Regions from separate parts of the Homo sapiens genome. Here region 1 is linked to region 2. The links come from fine-mapping of genetic effects on gene expression. A gene starts in region 2. The other region holds a variant in brackets. All regions are shown on one strand. Distances are from middle to middle.

The links. PIP is the estimated chance that this variant, and not a neighbour inherited with it, causes the effect.
Region 1: its variant is the best candidate, but not a certain one, in a credible set for the expression of RHOH in whole blood (INTERVAL, PIP 0.57).

Annotation. Positions count from the first base shown.
Region 1 is chr4:40,278,761-40,281,678 of GRCh38, forward strand. No RefSeq gene overlaps it. Among named protein-coding and RNA genes, the nearest start is that of LINC02265, 27 kb to the right of the region's middle. The variant T/C (reference allele first, on the strand shown) is at 1,427.
Region 2 is chr4:40,195,555-40,198,472 of GRCh38, forward strand. RHOH (ras homolog family member H) reads left to right here and starts at 1,477. Exons shown (of 3, transcript NM_004310.5): 1 at 1,477-1,746. RefSeq lists an enhancer at 2,450-2,549.

The sequences.
Region 1 (2,918 bases), 83 kb after region 2:
AATCTTGGCTGGGTGCGGTAGCTCACACCTCTAATCCCAGCACTTTGGGAGGCTGGGGCGGGTGGATCACATGAGGCCAGGAGTTTGAGATCAGCCTGGCCAATGTGGTGAAACCCCATCTCTACTAAAAACACAAAAATTAGCTGGGCATGGTGGTATGCACCTGTACTCAGCTACTCAGGAGGCTGAGGCAGGAAAATTGCTTGGACTCAGGAGGTGGAGGTTGTAGTGAGCAGAGATCGTGCCACTGCACTTCAACCTGGGCAACAGAGCAAGATTCCATCTCAATAAATAAATAAATAAATAAATAAATAAATAAATAAATAAAATAATAATAATCTCCTTTAAAGTTAGCTTTGATTGATAACAACATGCTGAAACAATGTGAAGATTAGAAAGATTTTTAACAAGGGAAAGGAACAAAAGTAGCTTTATTGAACATCTATCAGGGCAGTAGTAGGCACAATGCATGGATTTAGTTAGTAAGTGGCAAAACTGGGATCTTAACCCTGGCAGTCTAGCTCTGGAATTTATGCATTAAACCCCAATGCTGGCCGGGCACGGTGGCTCAAGCCTGTAATCCCAGCACTTTGGGAGGCCGAGGCGGGTGGATCACGAGGTCAGGAGATCGAGACCATCCTGGCTAACACGGTGAAACCCCGTCTCTACTAAATATACAAAAAATAAGCCGGGCAGGCGCCTGTAGTCCCAGATACTCGGGAGGCTGAGGCAGGAGAAGGGCGTGAACCCAGGGGGCGGAGCTTGCAGTGAGCCGAGATCGCGCCACTGCACTCCAGCCTGGGCGACAGAGCGAGACTCCGTCTCAAAAAAAAACAAAAAACAAAAAAACCCCAATGTTATTCGCTAAACCTAACTTAATCCTTAAAGAATCCTCTGATGCATATGTGTTTAACCTCATTTTTACAGACGAAGCCTGAGGGGATTAAAACAAGAGCTCAAACTGAAGTGTATCTAGAAATTAAGCAGGTACAGGGAGTCAGAGTAAGAACATACAGTCATCCTTGGTATTTGTAGGGGATTGGATCCAGGATCCCCAGCCCAGGATACTAAAATTCAGGGAGGCTCAAGTTCCTAATATAAAATGGCATGGTATTTGCATATAATCTATGCATTTCCTACCATATACTTTAAATCATCTCTAGATTACTTACAGTACCAAATACAATGTAAATGTTATGTAAATTGTTGTTATACTGTATTGTTTAGGAAATAACGACAAGAAAAAAAGTCTGTGCACATTCAGTACAGATGCAATATTGTTTTCCAAATCTTTTCTATCAATAGTTGATTGAATCCATGGCTGCAGAACCCATGAAGATGGAGAGCAATCTGTAAATTTTTCCTCCACTTTCTAATTTTTCTTAGACTACACAGTTCTCTCAATCTCTTTTGGTATACAAATATG[T/C]ATAGTCATTGAGATGATAGTGGTTGGCATGCAGTTGGAAGTTGCAAAATTCATGCCTCATCTCAAGGGGCTACTCAGCCCCAGCTAAGATTTTTTTTTTCTTTTTTTGAGATGGGGTCTCACTCTGTCACCCAGGCTAGAGTGCAGTAGCATGATCACGGCTCACTGCAGCCTTGACTGCCTGGGCTCAAGCAATTCTCCCACTTTACTCTCCCAAGTAGCTGTGACCGCAGGTGCATGCCACCATAACTGGCTAATTTTTATTATTATTATTATTATTTGTAGAGACGATGTCTTGCTATGTTGCCCAGGCTGGTCTCAAAGCGATCCTGGGCTCAAGCGATCCTCCAGCCTTGGCCTCTCAAAGTGTTGGGATTACAGGTGTGAGTCACTGTGCCCAGCCCCAGTTAAGTGTTGTGATGAGGAACAGCCGGCCCTACATGGCCAAGTGTTTCAGTTAGTTATTGTTATGTAACAAACTACCCCCAAAGCTCAGTAGCTTAAAACAATAGGCACTTATTATTGTCTACAACCTATGAATCAGGTGGTTGGGCCTTCTACTCTTGGCTGGAATTGCTCATGCATGTGTGGTTAGCAGGTGGGTGAGCGGTGGGCTGGCTTTGCTAATCTTGGCTAGGTCCCTTCACATGTCTTGAGTCTTGGCTGGAACAACTGAGACAACTTGGTATGGTCTCTCATCCTTCAGCAGGCCAGCCCAAGGTTGTTCACATGGGGTCTTCAAAGGTTCCAAGAAAGAAAGAGAGGAAGTGTACAAGGTCTCTTAGGTCCAGGCTCAGAATGGAAAAACTATCATTTCTGTCACATTCTATTGACCAAGACAAGTCACAAATCCAATCCAGAGACAAAGGAGGATGATATATTCAGCCTTTATGGGAAGAACTGAAAGCGATGTTGCACAGTGTGTAGACAAAGAGAGGGGTGAAAAATTGAGGCCATTATTTTTTTTGCCTCAATCTACCATAAGTCTTCCAAGTTTTCAGAAGCCAGAGATCCAGATCTTTATGTGAAATCTCCCAAGTTTTAAAAGCTTCATCGAATTTACAAACTTTTAAGACACTGGGGGGTCAAAGAGATCATATTAGAGCTGGATGTGGTTTGTGGGCCATCGGTTTACAACCTCTGGGTAAATAACTTGCTCAAGTTTCTGTAGTAATTTGCTGAGGAGAACTGAACTTAGGTCTATCTAGACTCTAGGTCTCCATTCATTCAGCAAACATTTGCTTGTCTTCTGAGTATAAGACTTTGACAAACAATGATAAATAAATCGCAATTCTTCCCTTAAGGGGCTTACAGTTGGAAGTGGGAGACATTATGTAAATGAACACTTTCTTCATGTGATTCAATGTTACAGATGCTTGTTGTGGGGCACACTTCTTCCCTCCCCTGAAGGGAACTTCACTGATATAACTCGGAGTCTCTTTCTTTGCCCTTTTATACATTCCACACCCTGGAAGTGGAGTGATATGGTTTG
Region 2 (2,918 bases):
GGTTCAAGCAATCCTCCTGCCTCGGACTCCTGAGTAGCTGGGACTACAGGTGTGGTTGCCCAGCTAATTTTTGTAGAGATGGGATCTCACTACGTTGCCCAGGCTGGTCCCGAACTCCTAGGTTCAAGCAATGCTCCCCGCTCAGCCTCCTAAAGTGCTGGCATTACAGGTGTGAGCCACCGCCACTGCACCTGGCCTCCCACAGAGGATTTTCTAGGAGATAATGTGCTCTTCAGAAGGCTCGAGGATCTCAGCTGGCAGATTGAGTTCTTACTGTGCATTAACAAATTGACACATGGGTTCATGTGGAAGTCTTGTGAACTTGGTAATTGGGTGTCTATTGATAAGAATGCTCACCTTGTACCATTGATTCCCTCTACAACTATGCTGCAAGCACAGTCATCTGCTTTCACTTCTTTGAACATGCCAACCTCTTTCCCACCTCAGGGCCTTTGCACATACTATTTGCCTCTACGTGGAATGTTCTTTCCTCCTTCTCATCCATTAGAGTGGCAGCAGTACTTTAGAATAATCAGAGGGGTTTAAAATAATATTGATGTCCGGTCCCAACCCAGCTCAATTAAACTCAAATCTTTGAGTGTGGGGCCGATGCACTGATAAAATAAAATAAAAGGCATGGAGTTGACTTTATCCTTACGGTCGGCAGGTATTTTGACCAAGCTATCACCGTGAGCAGTAGCATCAACAGTTAGTTATTCAGGGATTTGGGGCACAGGCGGTTGTGACCACATCACAAAAGTTCAATTTGTTGGGTTAGGCGTTTAGCCATAACCTAAGTAGTTGCAGATGGTCTCTACACCTGGATTGCCCATTAGGACAAAACAAGTAAACTTGTGTTTTTAGGCAAATAATGAAACTCTGAGGAGTCTGAAAAAACAACTCATCGCCAGGTAACTCCCAGCCCAGGTGCTCGTCCATACAGGGGTGAACGCACGGCAGGGGGCTGCTCGAACTCTCACTAAGCCTGCCTCTGTTCTTTGCAAAATATTTGATAGTTTTTAATGCAGCAAAGCGAAGCAGACAATCCACCTCTTGTTTTCCCCAAGCTGATGGGGGGAAAGTTCTAAGGTGTTGTTTCCTAAGCTCAAATTAACCAAGATTGGTCAGTGGCATGGACTTTTTTTTTTTTTTTTTTTGGTAATTTTACTTCCATGAGGAATCATTTGGACTCTTCAGTCTTCCTTTCTTCAGTTTTACGTAGGGCTTTGCTGGAGGAAAATGGGGCTAAGGGGGAGAGAAACATAGTCTCGGAGTAGGGTGGGGGATAAATTAAACGCAAACCCAGCGGTGCGGCAAAGGCCTTATTCTGCCTCTGATCTGGGGAAGTTTCATATTCTAATGGAGAGAAACGCACGTGCACACACACCCCCCTAAACCCACACAAATGAAACCCCCTCTGCGGAGAAGCCGGCTACAGGAAATTGACTTAGGCACAGGAACTTGCTAATCTCTTTTGTCACATTCGGATTGCTCCTGCTGCCCCACACACACTAACCCAACCATCTTGGGGTGGACTCCCTGCCAGCCCAACTGTTGTATTTTCAGTTCTTCCAGTGTGAATCAGTTAATATTCTCGGGAACGAGGGAGAGGTTGATCCTATGAGGAAATCAACCACAGTGAAAAGGCTTGGGCCGCTTTTGTTTTCACCTGCTTTTGTTGAACAAATTTGATTTCCGGAGTCAGTCATTTTACTGTCAAGACATTTCTTCGGCATTCTGCAACAGGTAAGGATTTTGCTTCCTTAAAAGTATTTCTTTGGTGTCAAAAGAAATTTTTCTAATTTTATTTAGCTTTTACTCTAGGCCAAACATCGTAATGACTCTGAGCTACCTGCTGTAAGGTGTAGAATCAATTTACAGGGGGACGGGGGTCGGGGGGGTGAGTGTTGCTTTGATATTCACTGCCCCTCACCACAGTCCTAACAAGATTTTTGAAACATGAAAAGTTACAATAGTTGGCTTTTTGGTTTTCCAGATATTCTAGAGAATGCATATGCTTGTGACTGTGGCTGAGCTCAACTGTATGGGTAGTTTAAATACTACCCAAGGTTTGATGAAGTAAATCTAAAGATGCTCTAAGTTGTGCAAATATGAATTTTAAAGTTGTCTAGTTCAGAAAAGAAACAGAACCGAAGTCTAAATGATGTAGATTTCAATCTGGAATTTCTAGCTTGTGTTTTTCACCTATTGCCAATGTTAATGACCATTTCCCAAAAGTGCTCTATGATGTATAACATGTATTTTTTAATTAAATTTAATCTTTCTTCTGAGGTGGTTTGATTTGGAGATATGCTACGAGGTACCAGTCAGTAGCCTGAGTTGTAACTAAACAAAGTTTGGGAAATCACCGGTTTTAGGTGCTTTACTAAATGAAAGTTGCCATTGACGTATTCAAGCAGGCAACAAGTAGTTGGTGTCCCCTTATTGGTTCTAAGCTGGTGCCGTGGAGGATATAAGAGAAATATTTTAAAAATCTCTACTTTGAAGGACCCTATAATCTGGTAGTTGTGATAAGAAGTAAAATTTAGGAAGCAATGCAAGATGAGAATTCAGTGATGAGTGGGGCAGCACAGGCTTGAAGAGTTCTGTGAATTCCATGGAGGGGGCCTGGGGGCAAACTGGAGTTGTCAGGAAGATCTGGGCTTTGGAAGAATGCGAAGTGTCGGTAGAAGGAGAAGGGGCAGGTGATTTCAGACTGGGAGGACCTTGTGGGCAAAGGCACAAAGGCGAGACTGACCTGGAGATGATAAGGCCAGTTGAAGAGACACTGGAGAAGAGAAGACAGTTTGTTTTACACATTGCAGGAAATCAGATTAGACAGTTAGGGTGTGGACACAAAAGCGAGGACCTTGCAGGCACTGGGGAGAAGTGACCCCATTCAATAGTCCTTGGTCTCC